Linked DNA regions of Homo sapiens. The protein of the gene in region 1 purifies or fractionates together with the protein of each later gene. This does not show direct contact. Each region holds a gene or a part of one and is shown in the gene's direction. Other genes may lie near its edges. The genes, in order: EXOC6B, EXOC3 and EXOC2.

Region 1 (3,702 bases):
TCTGTGTTATCTTAGAGATGGTGGTATCATCAATTCCACAGTGATGAACCACCTTTCATCCATGGCTCTAAAGCTTAGGTCTGGGGCTTAGGAACCATAAAAAGTGGGTATCTGGCGCTGGGAGGTAGAGTGAGTAAGCAAAAGGATACTAAAATATGTCCTGTTCACTCTTGGATGCCCATTCACCACATAGATGAGGCTGATTCTTCTCAATACAAGGAAAGGGCATGGCAAACATTACTATTTAGTACACTAAGGGCAGCTCTGGAGGGTCATCTCCTCAGTCTGCTGACTTTCACTGGCTTGTGAACAAGCATGGCATATGGCAAGATGACAGCTTCATTCCAATCCCCCAAGAATGGCGGTTTCTTTAGCCTGATCTAACCCCAGGCTTTTATTGCAATTTTTTCTAGGGCAGGATACAGCTAAGTAGACAGCAGTAATAATTGGATCCCATGTTTAACTGCATATTGCCCCAGCTCTAGGAGTGTTGAGTCTCAACTCGAAGAGTTTTTCTGGATCTTGAAAGCCAGTTTTCATGGAATCAGAGACCCAATCCCTTCCCTGTTCATCTCATTTCCTTCACTTACAGTCAGAGCACTTGGTTCAGGACATAAATCAACAGTTACTTCCATAGGCCTTCACAGGGCGTTTCAGACTTAGCCTCCTCCAGTAATGCCATTGAAATAGTTCAGATTTCGGAAGCCTAAAAATGGCCTTTACCTTACCCTTAGGTGTAACCTGAGGATTAGTTGGGATTGTTCCTTTATGTTTTAAAACCAGCTTTTTGGTTATCATCTTTAAGGAAATGTCACCAGCTCTGCACTGTGGGGGCAGCCATGCCTGGACTGGATGCCTCTAGGGATGGAGACATTGTTACCATAAAGTCGACAGAGCCAACCATGGCTTGTGGCTTGTTGCCTCTGGCCCAACTGTCCTTCACTAAATAATATCCTAGATATTATTTTGTTGCTCAAGCCCAAGGTTCCCACCCTCTTTTGAGATCCCCAAAGCCATCTTTGGCCTTGTCTAAGAAAGATTGCCTATAATCCTGTCCTCCAAACTCTAAAGCCTGGAGCAGCTTAGCGTGGAGGCTGCACTCATTGACCCAGATGGACTCCTGAGACTTAACGCAAGGGCTTTGCTATGAGGTCAGTCGGGGGAAACTGTACTTTAAGACACTTCAGAAAGATGCTACTGGCTAGTAGCAGAAAGATGGCTAGTGGCAAGAGTATAATTGTGCATCACCAAACAATGACAAATAAGCCACACAGGCATTTCCAGCTTGGATTGATGGGAGGAGAGACTCATCAAACAGAATTCTTCACTACCTTTGTCAGCTACTGAGTTGCTTCTGGGGAGGGAAGTACTTCCTTGCCCCTCCCCAACCCCCCTACCTCACCATATCCTATCATATCTTGATAGTCATGGGGAAGAGGATGTGCACACAGACATACAAATTTCCTCAAAGCTGGAGAGACCAGGCTACATGTGAGCTCATAGATGCTGCTGAGGCTCATCCTGAGGGCTGGATGGTTGGCCAGGGTTTCAGAATGAGGGTAAGGGATGAGCACTGCCACCCAGAACTTGATAAGCCAAGAGAAGGCAGGAGCCAAAATGGCATCGCCAAGCTCTCATCTTTGTTGAAACAAGTGAGAAACGATTATATTAATCTGAAGTTCTATTGCTTGAGAAGAGTTCAAAACACTTCTCTTTGCTAGTACCCAGTTTGCAGCAAGATCTCTTCAGCTTTAAGTGCTGAGAGACTTTGAAGTGGAAATGGAGAGATGTGTAAGCATGGCACAGTGTTTGTCTTTTTAGAGGATCATCATTGCTGGTCTGGTCTCAAACCTCTGCCTTGGAAGAACTGTGCTATACAGGAAAAAGTGAACAAGGTGGAGGAATAGGGGTTATTCTGCACAGAAGTCCCATGAAAGGAAAAGCTTATTCAAGCTCAAGACATAAAGATGGACCCTTTGATATATCTTCTCTCCATTCTTAGTCTGCCTTCACCTTATCTAACAAAAAACAACATGCAGCTACTGAGTTGTATGTAGAGACATACTCTTGGTGGGCCAGGGAAGGTAAAAACAGGGACCAGCAATGTCAAGTTTTTGAACTAGAAAAGTGGGATGTTTTTAGTTTTGTCTATAACCTGTAGCTGGGCCAACCCTTGAGAGGACTTGTGCAAAGCATGTGTGCCCAGACCCATCAGACTCCTCAGATATGGCCTCAAATACCTAGAGATGTAGAAGTACCGTGGAGGGCCTCAATAAGAGGGCAAGCACACAGATGGCTAGAAGCCTGTATGGCTTCTGGTCAGGATGAACCCTTGGCCAAGTTCTTGAGGAAACCAGGTCTATATTCCTGAAGGGACAGTTCAGTTTGGGACTCTATTAGGTTTCAGTAGTAATATAGGCTGCTTGCATCATTTTAACATTCATAGGGAAAATCTCTTTGAGCAGGCTATAAATGAAGCTGTTGCAGGTAGGGAAGAACAGGACCTGAAAATGGGAACCAGGAAGTGAGATCCTGTTGGCAAAGGGAATGTAGAGCTTCCAGGGTGCATTGCCCACTGTTCTCATTGCATACCAGTCCTCCAAGTCAGTCTAGCCTTACTGTACACTTGACAAGTGCTTACTCAGCAAGTCCCAGACCCACGGCCTTTTATCTCCCAAGACTGGCTTTGGCCATGACCTTCCTCATCAGGCCTCTGAGCACACTCTCTAGGAACTGCTGCAGAAATTCCCCTACCTTAGCCTCCCTTCTCCCAGGACTCCTCTCTTGACTGCAATTGCCTCTTCTTCTTCTTCTTCTTCTTCCTTTTTGTTTTTTTTTTTTTTGCCTGCATTCACAATTACTTTTCACAAAGGTGTTGGAAATGGCATTTTTATTTTACACAGATAGTTGCACATATATAGAGAAAATTAGGAAAGTCCATTTTTAACTCTAAAGGGAACTTTTTTCTCTAAAACTTACTTGTAAAGCTACTGATACAGATGGGCCGCATGGTTAGGGGAAAGCTCCTCTGTGAAAAGAGCATGTTTATTCCTCTTGTACATTTTCCTCTTTTAACTGCTATTAAACAAGAAAGCCTACATACCTGTTTCAAAAGCCACGGTGTTGTCTCATGGGTATTTTGTTCTTCCATCCTTTTTGCACAGTGCAGCTGTGGTTGGTGAACTGGATGGCTGACATTGCATCCCCACTCAGCTGGACTGAGGACTAGAGCAGGCAAGAGCCTAGTGGGGAAGAGAAAGCCTACCTTCCACACAAGGCAAGGAGCCGTACTGTGGCCTTGGAAACATCCCTAACCCCTGGGTTACGTTTTTTCCTGCTTATGCAGCTAACACTGGCATCATCATCAAGAAGAACTTTTTGAAATGCTTGAGTTATGTGGAACACTGGGCTAGGCAACTTAGAACGCAATGTTGAACACTAGCCCTGCCAAGGAAAGGCTCCCAGTCAAGATGGAGTGTTGTAGGATTATCCAGAACAAAGCCAGGCTGGAGAAAAGGGAGAGATGAGCCTATTTTAGACTCAGTGCAGGAGGGGTACAGTCATCCTGGCCTAGTGAAGGAAAGGGTCTGGTTAGGAAAGACAGCTCAGAAGAAGCAGAATGTTAATTAGCTGGGCCTTGAAGGAATGCAAGTCAAATTTTGTTAAGTCATAGGAATGAGTATTTTTGGTGCAGACCATATT
Region 2 (3,752 bases), on another chromosome or scaffold:
CAAGTGTGTCTTTTGATAGTTGTGAATCAGATTGGACTGCATCGCATGAGGGCTTAGGGTTCCTAGGCCTCTGGTAAGCCGAATAGCCCCTTCCCTCCTTCAGCTGCTGGCTTGTAGATCTCTGTAGAGAGATGTCCCTCAGCCTCCTCCTCAGTCTACTGTCAGCTCCCGAGCCAGATGCTGGCTCTGCAGGCTTGGATCCCACTTATTGGTGAGTGTGCCTTCCACGATGTGGCACATCAGGAGACATGGCGTCCATAGGTCCTGTCCTGGTGGCTTAGGTACTACAGCCACGCCGCCCACTCAGAGTTCCCATTTGCCATCCATCGATAGGGGTAATGCCCAAGTCCCCACTGGCCGCCCATCCACAGGGGTCACAGCTGAGTCCCCACTGGCCCTCTTCCATAGAGGTCTTAGCCGAGTCCCCACTGGCCAAGTCTTAGCCAAGTTCCCATTGGCCCTCTATCCATAGAGGTCTTAGCCAAGTCCCCACTGGCCAAGTCTTAGCCAAGTCCCCATTGGCCTTCTATCCACAGAGGCATGGCCAAATCCCTATTGGCCATCTGTCCATGGGGATCTTGGCCTGAGTTTGTTTCTTTGGAGGTCATTGTCATTTATGAGGTTAGATTCTTCTATAAAGAGACCGTTCCTTGATCACCCTCAGCTTTTTGATGACCTGAACCACACTTTGGACAGAAATGCTAACTTCTTTCCCTTTAATTGCCAGCTTTCAGTGTGCTCCTTTCTTAACATCTCTTAAAAATAGAAACGGTATTTGTTGTATGATTCTTCCACTCCCATAGGTGCTTGAGCATCCCCACAGTAAGTTTAAAAATAGAGCGTGTCACTACCTCTGTTTGTTTTCTTGACATTTCAAGTGTCTGTTTTTAATTGGATGATTTCAGGGACAGTTTCTGAAAGGGACATTTTACCTGACATTTGATGAGGTTCCTAACACTATGAGTTTCTAGGTGAAGTGTATAGTAAATAAAATAAATAAAATAAGATAATGCTTTCCCAATTCCTCACAATCAACTATGTAGTATATTTTTACAATCAGAATGCTGAACCATATTTTTTTTCCTTTTTTCAGTTATTATTTTTTACCAACTCCTCAAAATTTTTATATTTTTTAATTGTTTTTAAGAAACAAGGTCGGTCAGGCACGGTGGCTTACGCCTGTAATCCCAGCACTTTGGGAGGCTGAGGCGGGTGGATCATGAGGTCAGGAGTTCGAGACCAGCCTGGCCAATGTGGTGAAACCCTGTCTCTACTAAAAATACAAAAATTAGCTGGGCATGGTGGGGCACACCTGTAGTCCCACCTGCTCAGGAGGCTGAGGCAGGAGAATCACTTGAACCCAGGAGGTGGAGGTTGCAGTGAGCCAAGGTCTCACCACTGCACTCCAGCCTGGGTGACAGAGCAAGACTCTATCTCAAAAAAAAAAAAAGAGACAAGGTCTGATTAGGTTACCCCGACGGGTAGCTCACTGCAGCGCAGCCAGCAGCCTTTAACTCCTGGGCTCAGGTGGTCTCCCTGCCTCAGCCTCCTAATGAGCCATATTTTAAAGCCTGAGGTGAAGTTATTTTTTGATCCATTTAAAGTAATCAACCTCTCTGTCCTTCCATTAGTCTGGATCGTCTAAAGATTGTTTTATTTTTAGAGGCTCATCCGGTCAGATGTTAGTGATGTGAAATTTCAGGCCAGGCGTGACGTCAGCGTGGCATTTGAAACAGCTCCATGTTGCCCTTAGTGCTGTCTGACCGAAGCCTGTCTGTCCTCAGATATAAAGATGAAGCGCAGCTGTATAAAGAAGAGCACCTGAGGAATCGGCAGCACCCTCACTGCTACGTTCAGTACATGATCGCCATCATCAACAACTGCCAGACCTTCAAGTGAGTGTGGCCGGGCGCTGTGGCGGGGGAGCGGTGGAGGCCGGCCTGCCCAGCCGCTGTGTTGAACCTGAACCCTTTCCTTGCAGGGAATCCATAGTCAGTTTAAAAAGAAAGTATTTAAAGAATGAAGTGGAAGAGGGTGTGTCTCCGAGCCAGCCCAGCATGGACGGGATTTTAGACGCCATCGCGAAGGAGGGCTGCAGCGGTTTGCTGGAGGAGGTCTTCCTGGACCTGGAGGTGGGCCTGGCTCTTTCCTCCTGCCGTTTTCTGGGCCGAAGCCCAGTGCTTCCTCACTGCCCTCTGGGACACAGGCTGTGAACTGTACCGTGCGGATGCCGTCTGGGGAGCCGGGCTGTGCACTTGCATTCCGGTCAGATCGCTTAAAGCGCCTCCGTTTTCGGTGACGCTGCTTCGTATGATGCAGGGTCCTTCTTACGCACAATTCAGTAGATTCACCCTGTAAGTATTAAAGACATCAGACAATTTAGTGGATTACAAAATAGAAACCGATATGTAGGGACCTGTCAAAAAGTCAAATTGAGAGTGCACACACACACACATCCTCACATAGATCAGTTTCGCTTTTGAATATAGGTACACACGCAAAAATCATTAATAAAATGAATTTAATATTGTATCAAAGGCATAACCTACCATGAAATGTAGGGGTTATTTCAGAAACATAAAGATGGCTTAACATTATTTAGAGGTATTGGCAGAAATCAGGATATATTTAAAAAATAAGACCTTGTAGGCCGGGTGTGGTGGCTTACGCCTTTAATCCCAGCACTTTGGGAGGCCAAGGTAGGCGGATCACCTGAGGTTGGGAGTTCGAGACCAGCCTGACCAACATGGAGAAACCCCATCTCTACTCAAAATACAAAATTACCTGGGTGTGGTGGCGCATACCTGTAATCCCAGCTGCTTGGGAGGCTGAGGCAGGAGAATTGCTTGAACCCGGGAGGTGGAGGTTGCAGTGAGCAGAGATCGCGCCATTGCACTCCAGCCTGGGCAACAAGAGCAAACTCCATTTCAAAACAACAACAACAACAAAATAATAAGACCATGGCCATCTGGTGGTCCTGCTGGAAAGGGGTTCCTGGGATGAGGGGTGGGATTGGTTGCTGATTCATCAGTGTCTGGTTGTGCAAGAGAACAGAAATGTGTGTGGAAGTGTCCCCAAAGAGGCAGACACTTGTAACTTTCGCAAATATGACTTAGCAAGAAGAAAATATTTACATTTGAAATTATTTCAAAATTTAAAAAGAATATATAGAAAAATGGGCAAAAGACATGAACGGCCACCTCACATTAAAAGCAACACCAGTGTCCTCATCGTGAAACTAGACGCCCGATCTTATCCTCGAAGCAATGAATGCTCAACAGGACCTGCTGCTCAGCAGGATGGCAGGAGCCGGAGACGTGGATGCTGTTCAGGCTTGTTGAGGGTGTGGGAAAAAGGGGCTGTTTGTATTCTGTGTGGGCCTGAACTGGGTTGGGTTTTTGAGGGCAGCTTGGAAATACAGCCATTGTAGTTTTAATCTGTAACTTTTACTGGAGTTTTAATTTGTACACTTCTATTGGAGTTTTAATTTGTATACTTTTATTGGAGTTTTAATTTGTATACTTTTATTGGTTTTAATGTGTATACTTTTTGACTGAAAAATTCAACTTTAAGGAATTTCATCAGAATTATACAGATTCACTGTTGCATTATTGCAAAATGTGAAAAAAATTTAAATGTCCATCAATAGAGAATTGGGCAAATAAATACGATAAATATATGTAGCCACTAAAGGTAAAATGTATACATGCACAGATATTTCCATCTTTAACATGTCATTTTGGGAAGCTCAT
Region 3 (3,752 bases), on another chromosome or scaffold:
GTTTCCATTTGCCACCAGTTTTCTCTGAAAATTGATGTATCAGATCTTTGATATTATCGTTTAAGTTGAAAGGTCATGGTTATTATAATAGTTCCATCACAGGAGATGAGTAGTATAAACTGTGTAATACTACAGATGAATTAACAGGCAGTCGCAGTCGCTACTGTGGGCCTTAGCAGTCTTAGAATTTTAACAGGCATCCGCCCTCTCTACACATTACCTCCGTAATCCATTTATCTGATGGCTAAACCACTCTCAAAACCAGCAGGGAGAGGTTGGAAAGTGATCTCAGAATTAGCTGGAAAATTTTTTCACGTACACATGTCCAGAAACTACTGGCCATCAAACTGTTCCAGCCTCCAGTTTTTGAGACCTCCTCGGGCCTGGACAGACATGTGTATTTTGAAAAAGGTCGTGAGTCTAAACTCCCGCTTCACTCTCCCACTGAGAATGACTTTGAGAGCTTCCTTCCTTGAGGCCATAGCTCTAAGAGGGATAGCAGGTTAACCTTTGATAGGCAATTAGGTGCCAAACTCCAGAACTGTCCTGAGAGCTTGGTGAAAAGGGGAGTGACAGTTTGGTGATTTTGGCAGATCTTTTAGCATGATGTTTTCTGGATTACAGTTTTGTAGGTATTATATAGCTAACCACAGTTTTTATAATTGGCATAACTTACAGGTTAATTAAAACACTCTATCACCTTGATTGAATAAAATTTCTACCAGAAGATTGGTTTTGTAGTAATTTAATCTTTCTCCTAAAATGGTCAGCTGAAAGTTCTACCTTTTTTCCTGGTAGGTCTGTTTTTACCTATACTAGAATATAAACAAAATAGAGACAGAAATTGTCATACTTTCTAGCATTTGTAACTTTCTAGTTATATACTGTTTTTCAGGCTTCTAAGGGACTGAAAAAATGAAACCAAACAATTGCCTTCCAAACAGAAAAAGGTCACTGAATATCCTGTGTCATATATATCTGCTTTGATCTAGATGGCTTACAGAATTTCTAATAAACTGTGAAGAGCTGGCTGTGTCTTTTGTCATTGTTTTATGTTTTGTCCACTCCTTGAGAATAAGGGATATTTCTTTTAAATGTTCTCCTGTGTGTCCCACTCACTGTGGGCACCTACTTCAGAACATCAAGTTATCATTGTCAGTGGGTCTGCTGGAGCTCCCAGGAAACTGACTTGTATGTCAGATCACACTTATTCATGCTTGCGTAGAAGTGAAAGCTTAACTTTTTTCTTAAAACTTTTATGAAATATTTCACATAGCATACGATCTGTCTACAATAGAAAAAGAATATGCAATTCAATGATTTTTGGTATATTCAAAGAGCTGTCCAGTCATCACCATCATCAATTTTAGAACATTTCATCCCAAAAGAAACCCCTGACCCATTAAGTCTAATCATTTGCCTCCCAAACCACCCTTTCCCCCTACAGACAACTACCAATTGGCTTTCTATCTCTATGATTTGTCTACTCTGAAAATTTCGTATAAATGGAAACATGAAAATATGACCCTTTGTGACTGGCTTCTTTCATGTAGCGTAATGTTTCAGGGTTCATCCATGTTGTGACATATGCCAGTGCCTCGCTTCTTTTTACATATAATATTCCACTTTAAATATGCCACATTTTATTTATCCATTCATCAGCTGATGGGCATTTGTGGTTTTCCCACCTTTGATTAATATGCAGAATGCTTCTGTGAACACTCCTATACAAGTTCTTGTGTGGACATGTGTTTTCATGTCTCGTGCGTGCATACCAAGGAGCGGAATTGCTAGGTCATGTGGTTACTCTATACTTAATCTTCTGAGGAACTGCCAGACGGTTCTCCAAAGTGGCAGACATTCCTACCAGCAATTTTTGAGGGTTCCAATGTCTCTACATCCTCACCATTATTTGTTATTGTCTCTTATTGATTATAGCCATCCTAGTGGGTGTGAAGTGATACCTCATTCTGTGGGTCGTCCTTTCACATTCTGGATGGTGTCTTTGTAGCACTGGATTTTTAATTTTGGTGAAGTCCACTTTATCTGTTTTGTTGTTTATACTTTCGGCATGATTTCTAAGAAGGGTTTCCTAGCCTAAGGTCACAAAGATTTACACTGGGTTTCTTCTGATAGTTTCATAAGTTTCTTACATTTAGATCTGTGATCCGTGTTAATTTTTGTGTTAAGGAAAGGATTCAACTTCATTCTTCTGCATGTGGATATCCAGTTGCCCTAGCACCATTTGTTGAACAGACTGTTCTTCCCCCACTGAGTGGTCTTGGCACCCTTGTTGAATAGCAGTTGATCATAAATATGAGGGTATACAATATTTAAATATATTTTAGCTTTGGAGTATGGCTGAAGTCAGAAAGTCTGAGGCCTCTAAATGTGTTACTCTAAGATTGTTTTGGCTGTTCTGAGTGCCTTGCATTTCCTTATGAATTTTACAATCAGCTTGCCAGTTTCCATTAAGGAAAAAAAAAGCAGCTGTGATTTTAATAGAGATTGCATTGAATCCATAGAGCAGAGTTTAGGTTTTGAGATTAAGGCAGTGTGCCTGCAAGGGCATAGGTGTCAGGAAGCATGCCAAGCCACATCCTTACCTCTGTGGGACACGGGCCCTTTCAGGGCAGTGTTTCAAAGTGTCTTTCCTCTTGCAAGACTAAAAGAAAAATTAGTGGTTAGAGAGTAAATACAGATGGCTGGAAAATCATGACACAGTTTGTACTTTTCATAGTGAGATATCTAGTTCCCTGCCCTCACACAGTCATCCTTGACTACAAGTTAATTTTCAGTCAACGAACATTTTGTGGTAGCAAATTTCTTCGGACTGTTTTAGAAACTCTACTCATGACTGGCGGTCACCATGGTGGTATTACGCCAACCCCATCCTACGATGAGCAGGCTGGAGACCCTTAACCTTAGTACTTGTTTATATTTGATAATATAAATTTTCCTGTTGTCACTTTGTCTTTTTCTCATTTTCAGGCGAGACTTGAAATCTGTGCTTTGAGGGACACTGTGGCTGTTTACCTGACACCCGAAAGCAAGTAAGTGGCAGTGTTCTTTAGTTGAGTGCTCTATTAAAAATAAAGGTTGTCTTACTAGTCAATTCTGTCCTCTGTAAAGATGACTGATCAGAGCACATGCTCATGAATTTGTGATGTGATAAAGTTTATGTCAAGGCCACTTTGTAACACAATGTAAATGAAAGGGGTTTAATATAATTTTTTCATTTACTACTGACAAATCTTAGTCTTATAATACAGCAGAGTATGACATACTTCTTAAAGCAAAAGAGGATAAGAACTGAGTCTTAGTCTGTTCATAGCAGACTCTGAAGGACAGCTCAAGTGCTGTAAATATCAGTATAAGAGGAAGCCTTGTGGTTTCTCTGCAAAATTTTGTAGTGGAAATTTGATAATTTTTAGCTGTTTTGAATGAAAGTCAGGATTTCCTACCATTGAAATATCAGTAGGTGAAGTGAAGCAGAACTACTGTTTGTCTGTGCAAAATTGTTTACTACGTGGGCAACATTACCTAGGAAATACTGGGTTATAGTGTTGATGTGCCTGAGAAGCCAAGTCGTATGCAAATGAAATGTTTGAGGACACTGTAATATGCTTACTCACTCATTTCCAGCATCTGATAACATGGCTTGCTGTCATTCTGTCAGCTTTGCAACTGAAAATACGTTTTCCATTTTTTCCTAACCAATGAAGTTAGCCTTTCATTCCCGTCGGTCACAG

The links.
Region 2: the proteins of EXOC6B (region 1) and EXOC3 purify together in Homo sapiens (affinity purification with mass spectrometry; 4 studies listed by BioGRID and IntAct, with this or other methods). This does not show direct contact.
Region 3: the proteins of EXOC6B (region 1) and EXOC2 purify together in Homo sapiens (affinity purification with mass spectrometry; 2 studies listed by BioGRID and IntAct, with this or other methods). This does not show direct contact.

What each region holds. Positions count from the first base shown.
Region 1 is NC_000002.12:72,175,400-72,179,101, reverse strand, and holds the end of EXOC6B (exocyst complex component 6B), read left to right. Parts: 3' UTR 1-3,118; downstream 3,119-3,702. UniProt on the Homo sapiens protein: Component of the exocyst complex involved in the docking of exocytic vesicles with fusion sites on the plasma membrane.
Region 2 is NC_000005.10:460,176-463,927, forward strand, and holds part of EXOC3 (exocyst complex component 3), read left to right. Parts: intron 1-1,784; coding exon 1,785-1,895; intron 1,896-1,981; coding exon 1,982-2,132; intron 2,133-3,752. UniProt on the Homo sapiens protein: Component of the exocyst complex involved in the docking of exocytic vesicles with fusion sites on the plasma membrane.
Region 3 is NC_000006.12:490,426-494,177, reverse strand, and holds part of EXOC2 (exocyst complex component 2), read left to right. Parts: intron 1-2,991; coding exon 2,992-3,053; intron 3,054-3,752. UniProt on the Homo sapiens protein: Component of the exocyst complex involved in the docking of exocytic vesicles with fusion sites on the plasma membrane.